2 separate regions of the Homo sapiens genome follow, and region 2 is linked to region 1. The links come from fine-mapping of genetic effects on gene expression. Tissue or cell type: whole blood. Region 1 holds a variant in brackets; the other region holds the start of a gene. All regions are shown on one strand. Distances are from middle to middle.

Evidence for each region. PIP is the estimated chance that this variant, and not a neighbour inherited with it, causes the effect.
Region 2: CLN5 starts here. The variant in region 1 is fine-mapped to the expression of CLN5 in whole blood (TOPMed, PIP 0.95).

Annotation. Positions count from the first base shown.
Region 1 is chr13:77,017,596-77,021,595 of GRCh38, reverse strand. FBXL3 (F-box and leucine rich repeat protein 3) reads left to right here. Exons shown (of 5, transcript NM_012158.4): 2 at 1-83; 3 at 2,874-2,996. Among named protein-coding and RNA genes, the nearest start is that of FBXL3, 7.6 kb to the left of the region's middle. The variant A/G (reference allele first, on the strand shown) is at 2,135.
Region 2 is chr13:76,989,969-76,993,968 of GRCh38, reverse strand. CLN5 (CLN5 lysosomal BMP synthase) reads right to left here and starts at 1,888. Exons shown (of 4, transcript NM_006493.4): 1 at 1,698-1,888. The coding sequence starts at 1,870. RefSeq lists an enhancer at 384-1,583 and silencers at 1,605-1,844, 2,305-2,374, 2,465-2,554.

The DNA of each region.
Region 1 (4,000 bases):
CTTATTTGAAAGCTACCCATCCAGAGCTGATCAAACAGATTATTAAAAGACATTCAAACCATCTACAATATGTCAGCTTCAAGGTAATATTTTAAATCCTTCTTTTAAAAAATAAAGTATTTTTAGTGGCTTTGTTTCCTAAACCAGTACATCTTCTCATGCCTTTAAAATATTTGCTTTTTCAGGGAAAATGCTTAAAAATTTAGAATTATTGTATACCTTAGAAGCTGTCACAAAATATTATATTTGATGGAGCTAAATTACTCTATTAATTATTAATAATTTCTTAAAACAGCAAAAGCAGCCACTAAATAAGCATAAGTCATTGATAAAGCTGTGAATTACATTGAATTATTGTGAACGATTTTGAGGAAGAAGAAATATCTAATAAAATAAAAATTGGGAGATTATAATTGAGTAGAGCTTAATTGCTATTTCTATCTAACAGGAACTTAGTGTTACTTACTGATGGCTTTTTGAAATGGGATCTTCAGATGAAAAGGAAGCATAGAAACTTTATGTAGAAGATTTAGATGAATATATTTTAGAGAGAAATAGAAAAAGGTACATGGGAGAATGCCAAAGGGAACTGTTTATTTCTTTTTGTTGCTGGAAGGAAGGTATTGGAAATCATGCAGTGATGAGATAAATGAAGTGGGTGGCTTTTTGCGATATCCAGAATAATTTAAGAAATCATAGCTGGATGTGGGTACCTGTAGTCCCATAGTCCCAGCTTCTCAGGAGGCTGAGGCGGGAAGATTGCATGAGCCCAGGAGTTTGAGGTTGTGGTGAGCTATGATTGTGCAGCTGTACTACAGCCTTGGTGACAGAGCGAGACCCTGTCTCTATTTAAAAAAATAAAAAATCACAGTGGTTTGTGTGAGGCTTGTCATGTTTTGTTTGGGTGATGAATAATGAAATATGGACATGTTTACTGGATCTTTAAACACCAGATTTTGTGGTAGCAAATAACTTATTGAAAAAAAAAAACAATGCATGAATACTTGATTTATCTGGACACAAGCAGTTGCTGAATAGTCCAGGCTAAACCTAGGCAGAACAGTAGTTCTTAACCCAGAGCTTCTGGCCATAACTAAAATCTTGTCTTCCCTCGAAGAATGTAATTTCCTCTTAGGTGGAGATTACCTGCTTATTCTCCCATGTCTGTCCAAGGAGGAGGAGAGAATTGGTGGTGGGAATGGTTGGATATGTTTTTGCCTTTTTTTTCCCAGAAAACTGCACAAAGGCGCTTAGGCCACTGATTGCCAGGTTTTACAAATAAAAATGTAAGATGAGTATTTAAATTTGAATTTCGGATAATCAATGAATAATTTTTAGTATAGTTACATCCCTTTTAATGTTTAGGACATCTTTAATGCTAAAAAATATCTGTTGTTTACCTGAAACTTAATTGGTGTCTAGTATATTATCTTGCGATCCTAACTGGGGGCAAAGGTAGGGGGATCAAACAAAAATTCAGGACTCATCCCCATACCCCCAGGGAAGAAGGCTAAAGAGGTTTCTGTTTGGTTTTAGTTATCTTTGAATTGTGTAAGAGTGTTCTAATGGTAAATTGTATACAAAGATGAGTATAATACAAATACATTCCTCTGATAGGTCTTAAAGTCCAGTTCCACCTAGTAGATTTGCTGGGTCATTTTTATAGCCCTGTGATACAATTCAGGTGTATCTAGTATAACCCTCATAAAATCATTTGTGCAAAAGTTGAACATTTTTAGTAGGGTTTTTTTTTTAATTTTCCTGAGGAAATAATTTCTGATTTACAAAAAAGAGTCACATCACAGGATTCTTCTGGGCTCTCCTGATAGTCTTCACTGATTATAGACCAAGGAGGCTTATAGTTAGAATTTTTAGTCTAGAAGAGTGGTTCTCTAACTTTATGTGCATCAAAATCACCTGAAGGGCTTGTAAAGCCAAAAATTGCTGGTCCCACCCCCACAGTTTCTGATTCAGATGGTCTGGGTTGGGTATGAACATTTGTTCCCATTTAAGTTCCCAGGTGATGTTGATGCTGCTAGTCTCAGGGACCACATATTATCTATAAGTAGCTCTGAAACTAATATAATTAGCACATTAGTTTTACAATCCACTCTTAACATTTTTGGGATAAAGT[A/G]GTGTATATGAATCTGGAAATTAATAATATCCTTTTAACTGTTTTAAGGTGCTTCCCAGGAAACAACTAACTTTTTGATGGATGAACTCCTTTTTACATCCTTGAGGGATTTTTTGGCCCTTTATCCTTCCCTTAGGAAATGTCTTTGCAGAAGTATGTGTGAGAATAGCTACATCTTATTTAGTTTAGATTTTCATGCCTGACTGGTCCAGTACACTCATTTTACTTCACATCTTTCCATTAATAACATTAATGATGAATCCCAGGTTGTGATACACGTGAACATTTTGAGTAAATACTTAGTTTTTATTGCATACCATAGACACTGTATTTACATCTATTATGTGATCCACTACCAAATACATAATTATTTTTTAAAGACTATAAATTGATTTACTCCATTAGTTTATACAGTCACTTTGGAATAAATCAGTGTAAAAGCCAACATTAAATATGTCTCTTATCATAATGAAAGCTAGGTCTTGTCTTGACAATTGCCCTTATACTTTTTCAGAGAGACTTAGAAAAGGCCAAGTTGGAGGTGAGGGTGGAGGGTGGATGATTGAAAGAATATTCTTTAAGTTATAATGCAATAAACTAGTAATGATACTTCTATAAAATGAATATGTGTACAGAGAAATATAAATATATACATGAGTAATCTTGAAGTCTGGGTATTTGGGGAAAAAAGTAAAAAAATAATAAAATATTCATGAGTAAACGGTGTTTCTTTTCTAAGGTGGACAGCAGCAAGGAATCAGCTGAAGCAGCTTGTGATATACTATCGCAACTTGTGAATTGCTCTTTAAAAACACTTGGACTTATTTCAACTGCTCGACCAAGCTTTATGGATTTACCAAAGGTATCTGCTGTTTTTGTTTTATTATCTATTACTGAGAAATTCAGTGAAAGTCTAATCTTTTTTTTTTGTATTGACAGTGTGAGTATAAGGAAAGTTATATATATACATAATGGAAAACCAGTTACTATTTAGGATGAAAATAAATAGTATTTTTTTAAGCTTTTTTTTTTTTTTTTTTAAATCACCATACTTCTAAATTGGTATGGTTAAAGAAATTTACAGAGGCGTCTATAGGAAGTATTAAAAGAAATTCAGTAAGTAAAATAGAGTCAAGCATATTAGAAAAAAAGGGACACATAGATACTCATTTTGGGGCTTCCAGAGCAGGTTGGTGAAGTTAGAATCAAAGAAAAGTAGAGTGCCAATATTGAGAGCAGGTATAGCTTCTAAAATCTTTTGGCAAATGTTCTGGAAAGATTTAATCATGACCAAAGTTAGTCTCAGCACAGTTTAGATTAATTTACAGACTTAAAGACATCCTTTCTTTGGGTGAAAAGTTAACATATATTCTTATATATATTCTAACATGATCCTGCATATAATCAGAGATCGTGTCTCTCTCTCACAACTATTCTCTTAAAATACAAAAATAAGAAGGGTGCATTTTTAGAAAGGCAACTGGTAAAGGTGTCTGAATATGTTAGCTAATGGTTAATAGGTTAGTATCCAACAATAATTTGATATTTTTTTCCCAGAAGACACTGAAAACTAAAATATAGACACCCTTTTAAGTATCTAGTAGTTTAATGTACTAGGATGATTGAGGAGGGAATATAACTAAATTGAATATATTAACCCAAGTGGTCGTTTCAGTGGAATGTCTGTACCAAATAAATCACCAGTTGATGTCAAAGTCTTAATTGATTTTGAAACATTTTCATTACATATGTATATTTTGAGATAAAATGTTTTTCTTCACATATAAAATAAGGGAAATGGGCAGGAGAATCTGATTATCTTAATATTTTAAGATCCTAAGTACAGAAAGATCATTGTGGTACTCC
Region 2 (4,000 bases), 28 kb after region 1:
CACTGCAGCTGAATTCAGCTCAACAGACACACTGGTCACCTATAATCTGGCACTGGGAAAGAAAGAAGTGGTGGCGACAACAGCTTCTATCTAAGAATCCTAGATCCCCAAGGTTGTAGCCAGATCTAACAAATCTTAACAAATCAACAAAAATTTCTATTTTAACTTAAGAAGTTAAAATCTTTATGCTAATCGAAACTATTAACGACGCTCCCAAAAGTTTCTGCTACTTGGGTACAGTGTTTTATAGGCACTTACCTGGTTTAAACAAATACATAATCACATGGAGATTTCACTGACACAGCAAAATCTATTTTAGTTCAAAGGTAATTTAAGTGTGAACTTAATAAACTTAAATATTATATTCAATTGAGGGAATTAGATGGGAGCACGTACTTAATATCTGAGACTTAAAAAAAAAATCCACTAAAAAGCCATAGTCAACACCTTGCCCTAATGTTAAATCAAATCGTTTGGATTTACAATTCTTGTTCTATTGAGTAATTTTGACTTCTTACAAACATTTTATTATTAACATTTTCCAGAAAACTAGCTTCAACCACAAACTTCTCTTTCCACGTAGTATATCACACAAAACAAAAAAGTGTTGTAAACATTTCAGTGAGCAGAATACACTATCTAGGTTTGACAACAGCTGGCATTTTACTAGATTTAATCCTTCCAGCAAACCTATGAGGTACGTGCTACCACTATTCCTATTTTTTGACTCAGGGCATGTGGGCACAGAGATTCTGAGTAACTTTCCCAAGATCCCTGGTGATGACAGAGCCAGATTTGACCCGCAGCAGGCAGAACTCCTTCCCACTCATACTGTCATACAAAATAGCTGTTTTTTTCAGGTTTGTTGTGTGCAGTTTTAGCTGTTGATTACTTATGCTAGTAAGTTAAAATTATGTCCAATGATGCTTTTGGTTTAAAGAAAAATAGCTGTTTTCAAAAACTGCTGGTCTTTCTCCTGCCTGATGTTGACACCATGTTTTCTTTCTCTGTGTTTAGCTATCTCTGACCGCCGGAGGCTGTGTCTTCTCTGTCAAAGGCTGGAATCGACCTCCCAGGTGTGCGGGCTCTGTCCCCGACTTAGGACCGGCGTCCTACCTCCAGGCTGAAGACTGGACAAAAGCGGTGACAATCTTCCCGGTCTAACCAGGACTGCAGGAGACGGGGATTCCCGGGATGCGCGACTTTTGAGGGCAAAACTGGGAAGTCCCAATAAGGACTTCGGATCAGGTTCTGATCAGGTTCAAACCAGAGCGAGTTGGTCGCCCAGTAAATTGTACCAAATGTTCCGCGGTAATAACTAACGACAGTGCATGATATAAATAAATGCGATAGACAGTGTTTTTAAACTACTCAAGAAATCAGCTACTTGTACCCAGAAGTCCCTCCATTAAATAACATTACTCTCCTTTTCTTCTTCCACGATTCAGGACTGTCCTGAGTCTGCCGCAAGTGACCAGAGGGGACGAAAGGTCCCAGGGCTGCACGTAACGAGCGGCTGCGACTCCCCAGTCCTCAACTTTGCTCTCAAGTGCGCTCCGAGCGTCACCCGGCGCTGTCCCCGCACCATCTCGTGACCCGACACAAACCACGGTGAGCAGGGGTCCCCGCCCCAGCACCCCATCCCCCATCGTCAACGCCGACCCCAACCCCGACAGTGCGCGCGCCGCCGCACTCACTTGTAGGGCACCGGCCAGTGGCGCCGGGAGGGGATGCCCGAGACCCGGGACCAGCCCGGAACCACCGCGAGCCAAAGCAGCGCCAGGGCCCAGCACCAGGAAGCGCGTCCCCGAGCCGCGCCCGCGCCCCGCCGCATCTCGGCGCCCTGTGCCGTGTCTACCTCCTGCGCCATCAGGCTGCACCCAGTACTTCCGGAGCCTCTCGAGGCCTGCGACGCCGGTGGGAGGAGCATGCGCGGAGCCGCCAGTCCGGGACGCGGGGCGCCTTGCCCCTGCGCGTCAGCTCCAGAGCTTGGCCCCAAGCGCAGGTTCCGGCGCATGACACCTCCCCGCGCCCGGCCCGCGGCGGCTTCCACACTTTGCAGTCCAGGAAGGTGCTTTGGTCTGGCTCCCAGGAGAATTCGATCCAGACCTGGGGCGTCATCTTTTATGAATTGACCTGTCCTTGCCCAAAAGCCACCACCAAAACCAAAAATCTGTCACCGGGGCTCCTCCCAACACCGAACTTTTACCCCATCCCACAGGGCCCACGCTAGGTGTCAACAAACGTTGAGTGAACGAGAATGTGTATTTGGAGCTGAGGGTGCAGGGCTGGGGGTGCAGTGAGGAAGAAGGGACAATAGTGCGGAAATGGCTCGTCGTCACCCGACCTGGGCCAGTCATAACAGTGGTTAACACTGACAATATGTGGTCCCTGCCACTCCCCAAGTGCTTAGTGGGGAAATGACTCGTCCTCACTCGACCTGGGCCAGTGATAACAGTGGTTAACACCGACAATATGTGGTCCCTGCCACTACCCGAGTGCTGCCGAATCTACCCCCTCCCCTACCGCTCCCCTCACAGGCAGGTGTTCCTTGCTTGGATCTGTCACTTCACTGGAAAGAAGTTTCTGCATCACCTTCTCTTCTTTGACTCTTCAACTAGGTCAAGAAAACAATGGCATCAATTACCCGGCTTTTGAGGAGCCTCTTGTGGCATGCTTTGCTGTTAGGCACAAATACTGACTTAAGTCTATACGTAGTACATTCAGGGCCTTGCCATAGTCACTTGTTTTTACCAGACAGCAGTTTTGCAGGGCCTTAGACCGGGACTTTCCAATTCCTTCACTTCACCCACAACTCGTGTGAAGCATCATAATGTTTGTAAGCCTATGGGAATAAGCAAGGTGGCTTCGGTAGCCGGAGATGACCACCACAATCCATTGGAGGATATGTAGCTTGTGGGGGTGTCACTGACTTCCTTGGGCCCTCCAGGTCTCTTGATTACATATGGGACTCAGTACCCTGCCCCAAACACACACTCCTTTGCCCACTTGCTGCTCCAGGTTTGGGGGTTTTGCGGAGGTTCAGGCTGGGCTGCATTTTACCATACGTTTGTCTAAGCGTTTTGATAGCTACCTAGCTCTCCTCCGTATACTATGGCCAAATTCAAAATTACCAAGGCTAAACTGGCTTCTTCAAAGACCTGCCCAAGATAAGAGGGGGAAGCATTCTAGCCCTGAGAGCTGAAATGTAATGTCTGATTTGAAGGGCACCTGAAGGATTCCGTGGCCCCACACTTGAGCCTAGCTTAAAAAGCAATCAGCAGGAACAGCTTTAAAAAAAAAAAAAAACATTGATTAGAGCATTTACAAATCCTGGAACCATACACAGTATGATGTATGAGGGCCACAGTAGATGGCCTCAACAACCAGAGCCTCCGTGGCTGCCTGGAGAGCGGTGATGCAGGCAGCAGCTTCATGAGATATTTGCAGTTTAATCCAGTCATCTGCAAGCACAATCTGCCCATCAGATTGGACTTTCTTGGAGGCAAAGAGAAGCAACTGCAGTGGGGTGACTAAAGTCATGCCTTTAGCAGAGATGGCTCGAGTTCAAATCTTTTCACCAAATACAAAGAAGGGAGATAGGTACTTCATGTCTTGGCTACTAAAAGGACAATTAACAGTAGATGGTTCCAGGTTCCATCTACTGTTAGTAGAGGGCCACAGTAGAACCTCCCATTCAGTTCAGGACTTCCCAGAGCTACAAAAACAAATTCAGGTTGACCTTGTTCAGTGGTGGAGGCCTCTGGTCTTGCTTCTGCCATCTGTCTCTTCATTCTGTGTGCAGGGAGCTTTCATGGTAAGAAAGCACTTCCTAGTATTGGTTTTTATTTTTTATTTTTTTGGAGACGGAGTCTCCTTCTGTCACCCAGCCTGGAGTGCAGTGATGTGATTTCGGCTCACTGCAACCTCCGCCTCCCGGGTTCAAGCAATTCTCCTGCCTCAGCCTCCCTAGTGGCTGGGTACAAGTGTGTGCCAGTTG